3 separate regions of the Homo sapiens genome follow, and regions 1 and 2 are each linked to region 3. The links come from fine-mapping of genetic effects on gene expression. A gene starts in region 3. Each other region holds a variant in brackets. All regions are shown on one strand. Distances are from middle to middle.

Evidence for each region. PIP is the estimated chance that this variant, and not a neighbour inherited with it, causes the effect. A credible set is the group of variants that fine-mapping cannot tell apart.
Region 1: its variant is the best candidate, but not a certain one, in a credible set for the expression of MFSD1 in monocytes (Fairfax 2014, PIP 0.64).
Region 2: its variant is the best candidate, but not a certain one, in a credible set for the expression of MFSD1 in visceral fat (GTEx, PIP 0.63).

Annotation. Positions count from the first base shown.
Region 1 is chr3:158,743,625-158,746,474 of GRCh38, forward strand. The region is part of intron 4 of LOC100287290 (a long non-coding RNA gene); the gene reads left to right. Among named protein-coding and RNA genes, the nearest start is that of RARRES1, 13 kb to the left of the region's middle. The variant A/G (reference allele first, on the strand shown) is at 1,453.
Region 2 is chr3:158,733,273-158,736,101 of GRCh38, forward strand. LOC100287290 (a long non-coding RNA gene) reads left to right here. Exons shown (of 5, transcript NR_171782.1): 2 at 679-765. Among named protein-coding and RNA genes, the nearest start is that of RARRES1, 2.2 kb to the left of the region's middle. The variant G/A (reference allele first, on the strand shown) is at 1,534.
Region 3 is chr3:158,800,909-158,803,408 of GRCh38, forward strand. MFSD1 (major facilitator superfamily domain containing 1) reads left to right here and starts at 1,146. Exons shown (of 16, transcript NM_022736.4): 1 at 1,146-1,407. The coding sequence starts at 1,245.

The sequences.
Region 1 (2,850 bases), 57 kb before region 3:
ATTTCAAAGAAAATTCATAACACTTGTTAATATTTGTATGCCATGAACTTTCTGGAGTGATTGATCTATGCAATTCTGTTTATGACACTGGTGTTCATCAGTGAAATTTGCATAGAGTATGTTATCAAGGCAAACCAAAACCAACTCTTCATACCTCAGGGGAAGGCGTTTTCCCACATGTGGCAGCCTAGATAACAGGACAGTGTGTTAGAAAGCCCTCATTCTATTTTCCCCTCTTCACCATTATTTCTACAGGGTGCACACCAGGGCATATATATAATAGTGAGAGCAAACAGAAGTACTGATAAATCACCTGGCTAATAAATAGACAACACAATCACCTAGATGACTTAGAATACGTGAATACATACAGACAGAGGTTGGTTGATTCCTTGGAGTGTTCTTATGACAGTGCTGATTTGTGTGTGTGGTTAGTTGTTAAAATTTGGTGCTCCTGCAGGGAGGATGATTGGTGCAGGCTTCTGTTCAGCCACCCTGCCCCTAGTTCCATGGAATGTAATGTGCGGTGGGTGGATCTTCAAGTCCAGAAGCAGAAAAGCTGGATTTGTGGGCGTTCAGAAGAGTCAGCAAGTTGTGAGAGCAGCAAGGGGCAGACTGGTCTGGGCAGAAGGTGTGGGCCGAGTGAATGAATTGTAGGGAAGACCAAACAGAACAGCAGTGAACCTGGCTGGAATCATGCCAGTGGCTACTTAGCAGTAAAGGAAAAAGGTGGAAAACCTTGAAGCCCAGCAATGGGCATTTGCTCTTAGAGGGTTCTCTAAAGTCCCTGCACACCTAGCCTTGAAAAGAGCCTACTGTGCACAGGGTGAGTTGGGTTGGATTATTTTTTTGAAACAAATGCCACTGTAAACATGTTTTTCTCTTCACTGGTAAATATCAGAATTATGATGAGGCTTTAGGATAAGGAGATATTATTGTTGGCTAAAATGAAATTCTATCTTGATTCTTAAAGAACTAAGAAGGATGGTACAGGGCAAAGAGCTCTGGTCTGAGAGTCAGAAGGCATGGGGTCTAGTCCCAGCTCAACAACTCAAACTGGCTCAGTCTCTTCTGTGTAAAGTGCTGGGTGTGGGATGAATTACATGGCAAACAGAGGGAACTGCCGGTTTGAAACACTGTAGTTTTATTCTCTTTTACCTGTGCCTACCCGGTGCAGAGAACCTTGCTAAGTTGTCCTTTCTTTGGACACATCTCACTAACGTCTTCCCACCTTCTGAAAGAAGACTTGTGCCTTCTTACTATCATGCAGATATCATGCCTGGCCTTATTACCAGATATTTTAAGTTAAAAAAAAATCCAAACCACCAAAGATCAGAGTTTAATTGATATGCTTATTGCTCTGAGCTAAATGAAACAAATGAATGTCTGGAATTTGGTAAATGAGATGACTCCTATTTTGAATTGTAAGTAAACTGATGTGGCAGTCAGGGT[A/G]GTCTAGGATATGCTGCAATAACAAACAATGCCTACATCTCAGGACCTAAGATAAAAAAGGTTTATTTGTTGCTCTCATCACAAGTCCGTTATGGTTTGGCTGGGGGTTTTACCATAGCATTGTCAGTGTTCTTATTCCACAGGGCAGGCTGGTGGAGCAGCTGCTTCTGGAACATTTCTTGTTGCTACAACTGAGGAAAAAGAGAACAGGGTGAATTATGCTTAGGTTCTTAGAGTTTCTGTTCAGGAGTGATACATATTACTTCTGCTCACCTTTTATTGACAAAAGCATGTCGTAGGCGATGCTTAACTTCTTCAGGGGGTGGGAAAGTACAATATCATCATGTTCTCCAGGAGGTGGAGAGCTGGAAGTATGTGGAACAGCACAAATGCTTACCACAACAGTGACTGCTGGGCGAGACCTAACCTCATCATGAGCAGAGTCTTTCATATATTGTATTAGTTTGCTGAGCTGCCATAACTGAATACCACAGACTGGGCAGATCAGACAGCATTTATTTTCTCCCAATTCTGGAGGCTAGAAGTCCAGTGTCATGGTGTAGGCAGGGCTGGTTTCTTCTGAGACCTCTTCCCTTGGCTTCCCCTTCTCTGTGTGTCTTCACATGATCTTCCCTCTGTGTGTGCCTGTGTCCTTGTCTCCTTATAAGGACACCAGTCATGTTGGACTACAGCCCATTCCAATGACCTTACTTTAACGAATTACCTCATTAAAGAGTCTGTTTCCAAATGCTGTAATATTCTGAGGTGCTGGGGGTTAGGGCTTCAATATATGTATGAATTTTGGGGGGACACAATTGAGCCCATAACAGATATCATGTTAACATTAGAACTGGGGCTGTAACAATGGTAATTGTTAATAGCAATTAGTAATTAGCAAAAATTTTGATACATATTATCCCTGTCCCTATACTTGGTATGAAAAAGCTCAATAATTTTTTTTTTGTTTTCTTTTATAGGGTCTTGCTCTGTCACCCAGACTGGAGTGCAGTGGTGCAATCTTGGCTCACTGCACCCTTCACCTCCTGGGCTCAGGTGATCCTCCCCATCAGCCTTCTGAGTAGCTGGGACTACAGGCATGTGCCACCATGCCTGGCTAATTTTTGTGTTTTTAGTAGAGATGGGGTTTCGCCATGTTGCCCAGGCTGATCTTGAACTCCTGGCACAAGCAATCCATCTGCCTTAGCCTCCCAAAGTGCTGGGATTCCACACGTGAGCCCGCACGCCAGGCCACAAGATCTATTTGTGCAAATAGATTATTTCTTGCTATAACATTCATGACAGCTCTAAGATGCTGTGATTAGAGTTTAAAAATTGTAGATTTAATTGCAGACCTATAGAAAGTTTTCATAATACACCTCATACCTTAAACTCTCTTTA
Region 2 (2,829 bases), 67 kb before region 3:
GGCAACTCTTTTTTTTTTTTTTTTTTTTGAGACCATGTCTTGCTCTGTCTCCCAGGCTGGAGTGCAGTGGCACGATCTTGGCTCACTGCAACCTCCGCCTCCCAGGTTCAAGCAATTCTACCTCAGCCTCCCGAGTAGCTGGGACTACAGCCACCATGCCCGGCTAATTTTTGTATTTTTAGTAAAGACGGGGTTTCACCATGTTGGTCAGGCTGGTCTCAAACTCCTGACCTCGTGAGCCGCCCGCCTGGGCCTCCCAAAGTGCTGGGATTACAGGCGTGAGCCACGGTACCCGGCGGCAACTCTTTTTAGACAGGTGGCAGTGAAGGGCTAAGATAGCCATTGTTTTTAAACCGTAGGCAAGAGAAAAAGTCCTGGAGAACCAGGGCTGAGAGAGGAGAACTGGTACTGCTAGGCACTCCCAACATCCATTTCTCCATCCTGCATTTTGTTCAGGGGTCTACCCCTGCACCAAACGTGGACCCCAGTGCCATTGTGGGGCTAAAGGAAATCTCTTTTTGCCAGTGGGTGGTTGAGAGTGGGCATGTGCCAGTTCTGCATGGTGAGCAAAGCCTGTGGGTTGATGGGCGTGGTGCCATCTCTGGAAAGATCCTGTCTTACTGCACTTCTTCCTCTGGCTGTTGTCTGTCCCTTGTCTGTCTTTCCTTCCTTCTGCAGATAATTGTGAAACACCTGTGCCAGGCCCTGGGGGAATGAGGGTGAACAATCTTAAACATCTCTGCCTTCCTGGAGCACACCTTCTAGGCAAGTGGGGCCCGGACACTCAGTGAGGCCAAGGGAATGTGTGCTATATTGGATGAAGTTACATGCCAGGGAGAAAAATTAAGCCAGAAAAAGAAATGGGGAGTTGGGAGGTGGTTAATCTTAAAAGGTGTGGTCAGGGCAGGCCTCTCTCGGGAGGTAATATTTGGGTGAGGACCTGAAGGAGGCAGAGCCAAGTGGACATGTATGCAAAAGCACTGTAGGCAGAGGGAACGCAAGTGCAGAGGCTAGGGCAGGAGCCTATCTGGCATGTTTGAAGAAAAGCAAGAAAATCCAGCTGGAGGGAGAAGCCAAGGGGGAGAGTGCAGGCCCTCGATAGGCCCCAGTTAGGTCTGGCTGTGCTGCCCAGAAGCATGCCTCTGTCTTGCTGGCTGCCTGAGAATGAAGCCCATTTCAAGAGTGGCAGAGCAGAGAGAGGGGAGGGCCCTGGGTTCCTGATGGCATTGTTGAACACAGGAATCAGCGGATCCTGGAGTTTATTTCTTATTATTTCACTTCCCTGAAGCTGGAGTTGCTGTTTCTTGCCCTCAGAGGCAAGCCTAGCACAGGTAATCACCTCCCAGAACCCAGTCATCTCCCCATAGTTTGTTTTGTGCTGCAATAATAGAATACCTGAGACTGGGTAATTTATAAAGAACAGATATCTGTTTCTCACAGTTCTGGAGGTTGGAAGTCCAAGATCCAGGCACCAACAGGCTTGGTGTCTGGTGGGGTCTTAGCTCTGTCTCTGCTTCCAAAATGGGGCTTTGC[G/A]TGCTTCATCCTATGAAGGGGAGGAACGCTGTGTCCTCACATGCTGGAAGAGTGAGAGAGTACCCACTCTTATGACCTAAACACCTCACTCTAGGCCCCACCTCCCAACATTCTTGCACTGGGAATTGAGTTTCAACATGAATTTTGGAGGGGACAAAAACACCCAAACTATAGCACCCTCCAAGAGGTTATAGTAGCAGGCTTTTTGAGAATTGATCACTTCCAGGTGATTTTACTTCAGTGCTTTGTTCCCTGTGAGTATGTTAGATTGCTTTCAACTGTATGTAATGGAAAACCCGATTAACAGTGTGGACCATTTATTGGTTTGGAGTGGGAGATCTCAGTGAGTTTCTGAAAGACCCAGGCTCTCTCCATCCTTCTGCACAGCCATCCTCAGCTGGTTGGCTTTTTGTCCATGCACTTGTAGTTTCCTGGTTATAGAATGGCTGCCACAGCTCCAGACAGCACATCTTCACATGCTGCAGCCAAAGGCAGGTAGCAGGGAATAGGTTGCCAGAGTGGAAAGAGAGCTGGACATTGTGCACCTGTTTGTTTTTTGCATCAGGAAGAAATATCTTTTCCAGAACCTCCTGCCTACACCTTTCTTCCCCCCAAGACCTTCCTTTATACCTCCTCAGCCAGATCTGGGTTACACTGGCAAAGCCTAGCTGCAAGGGAGGCTGGCAAACTGAGTGTCTGTCGTTTTTCAGAGTCAATGGTCTGGTCTGTAAACTAGGATTAAATTTAACTGCATGGAATAAACACCCGAATGACATTGGCTTAAACAGGAGAGGAACTTATTTCTCAAAAGAAGTTGTGGGGTAATGGTGGGATGGTAGACAATCTGCGGTTGGTATTGGCAGATCCATGAGGTTGTTAGAGGTCCAGGCCTTTTCCAGATCTCTGCTCCCACATCCTGAGGATGTACCCCTTGCCCTCAGGGTCCACGATGGACACTAGCCATCAGCAGGACTCCCTTTATGGATTTCCTAGAAGTCTCACAGGGCACTTGTGCCCTGTATCTTATTGGCAAGAACTTGGTTGCAAAGGAAGCTGGGAAATGTAGTTTTTATTCACGGTGGCCATATGCCAAAATAAAACTCAGGATTTTGTTACTGAGGAAGAAGATTGTGTCTTACGTTGGGTTTCCTAGAAGCAGGCCCAGAAACAAAGATTGTTCCTAAAAGAAATGCTCCGAGCAGAATTCAGTAAGGAGCTAGAAGAAGGATAGCCATGCAAGGATCTCAGACAGTTATATGACAGGTAGGTTCAGCCTGACCTGAAGGGGAGCTCTCA
Region 3 (2,500 bases):
TTCCCATTTTACCTCCTAAATAATTACTGATTTTCTTCTGTGCCATTCCTGCTTTTTATTGCTAACAGGCCCTCGTCATCTCTAATCGTTACGACTGCAGCATCTTCCTAATAATCCTCACAGTTTTCAGCCTCTAGCTTTGACGCCCTCAAAATTCTGTTAGTAAAGCCTGAGGGCTCCCAGAAAGCGACGATGGTGCTGTGCTGGCAGACCGAATGTTTTTTAAAACACAAAGCTTGCAGTCCTGCTGCTGTGCTCAAAATCCTTGCATGGCTCTTCTTGAAACAGGTTTAGTGTTTCTACTCGAGTTCCTTCTCTGTCGTTCAACACAAACACATACACACCCAGTTCTGTTTCACGCTTTTGTCTTTATTATCCCTCGTAACTGCCCGCCCTGCAACCAACCCGCTCAAACAAGCACCCTGACTGGCGCATTCTTACTCATTCTAGCCTGGGTTTCAACTTCAAGGAGCTTCAGCGCCCCTCACTCCCTTGCCCTGAAAGCTGGCTAAACTACGCACCTTTTCTCCCCTTTTGAAATGACCTTTCCAGATATTTCTATGGAATTCAGTGCCATTTTCTGCCGCTGTTCTCACCACATTCATTCATCATGTTTAGTTTTAAAAGTACCAGATTCTGTCGATTTCTCCAACTGAACTCTGAAATCTTTGAGGTCAGGGAGCTTGCCTCATTCTATTTTGTATTCCCAGTACGTGACACATGGCTGGACACACCAGAAATTGTCCGATCAAGTTTGTGGGTATTAAGAGTGGTCAAAGACGCTGGGGAGGGCAGTGCTGGGAGAAGGGCAGCGCGCGTCTTGGCGACCCCAGCGCAGTTCGAACTACTCCGGAGTCTGGTGTGGAGCCGAGAGGGAGCCCCGCACTTTTCTCCCCGCGGAGCTGCGCTGAGTCTGAAATAGGTGTACGCGTCAGCGGGGCAGGAAACGGAAAGACAGTGCAGTAATTGGTGGAAAGCTGGAAGTGGGCACCTCGAGGGCCTCAGCCCCACGAACACAGTCACCCAGGAAAAGCGAACCGCGCCAGGCCCTGTCATCGACCGCTGGGTCCGTCCTCCCAGCGCTCGCGGCCGCTCACATGGGCGTGGCCCTGCGTGACCTGCCGGGGCGTCACGTGAGCTCCCGGAGTCATGTGACCGCCGTCTTGACAGTGTTCCACGGGCGCTGCTTCCTGCCTGGGTTTGGAGTTGTCACCACTTTCCCCTCTCCGTCTCCTGCGGGCGCAATGGAGGAGGAGGATGAGGAAGCGCGGGCGCTCCTGGCAGGCGGCCCTGACGAGGCCGACAGAGGTGCCCCGGCCGCCCCTGGAGCCCTGCCGGCCCTCTGCGACCCCAGTCGCCTGGCGCACCGGCTTTTGGTGCTGTTACTGATGTGCTTCCTTGGCTTTGGTGAGCCGGCCGGGTGGGTTGGGGCTGATCTTTAAGGAATTCCCGACTTTCTCTTCGAGGTAGATCGTCATCGTGGTCACTGGTGCCACGGGGCCTCAGCGCAGCTTCTGTCTTAAGCTCCTGGGCCTCCTTATTTTCCCCTTTGCGATCGATTCCAGCCACACCTGTGGATGTTGCTAGTTACTCCGCGTCCGGAACGTGGAGGTCGAGGGACTGAGCTGGGCGAGTTTTGTGGCACTCCTTTGCTCTTCAGTAAGTCCCAGGGGCTAGCGACTCGCCCTAGAGGCGATAGATATGAAGGTAACTCCAGATTTTCAAGGTTCCTCTTTTGGCACACGTGGTCGGAGGAAATTCAGAAAGCTTTAACTGTTCCTAAACAACTTTTGTTTGTTTGGTTTTAGGTGAGACAGGGGCTTGCTCTGTCACCCAGCCCGGAGTGCAGTGTTGTGAAAGTGGCTTACTGCAGCCTCCACCTCCTGGGTTCAAGCAATCCTCCCGCCTCAGCCTCCCGAGTAGCTGGGACCACAGATGGGGCGCCACCACACCCGGCTTTATTATTATTATTATTTTTAGACACAGGGTCTTACAATGTTGTCCAGCTTTTAAAAAACGTGAATGATTTCGTCGGCAGTCTTCTATATATTTTTCACCCTCTTTGAGAAAATGTATGAGTGTGTCTTGCTGATAGCTTCAGTGAATAGATATTGTTCTCTTAATCTTCCACTCTGCCACTGTGAAGCAATCATATTGGACGGGACTTGTGGTAGTCTTGACAGTGGTTGGTTTCTCTTATGAAATCTGATGTCTCCGAAAACAGTTTCTTGATAATTAGAAAAAAATTTTCCTTCCTATGTTACAGTTTTTAATTTATTAAGCAAAATTCTAATATTAATTTGGTATGAATGTGTTTTTCAGGAGGCTAGCTGGAGCCCGTGTAATCAGCAGGTTTAAGAACATTATGGTGGATAACTATTCTAGCGCTGAACATATAAGTAGACATGAAGGATGCTTTGGGCTTTGGTTTCCTTGCAACTCCTTTTTCCCCCCTCCCCTGTTTTTTAAAAGATGATGCCCATCCATTAGCTTTAAAGCA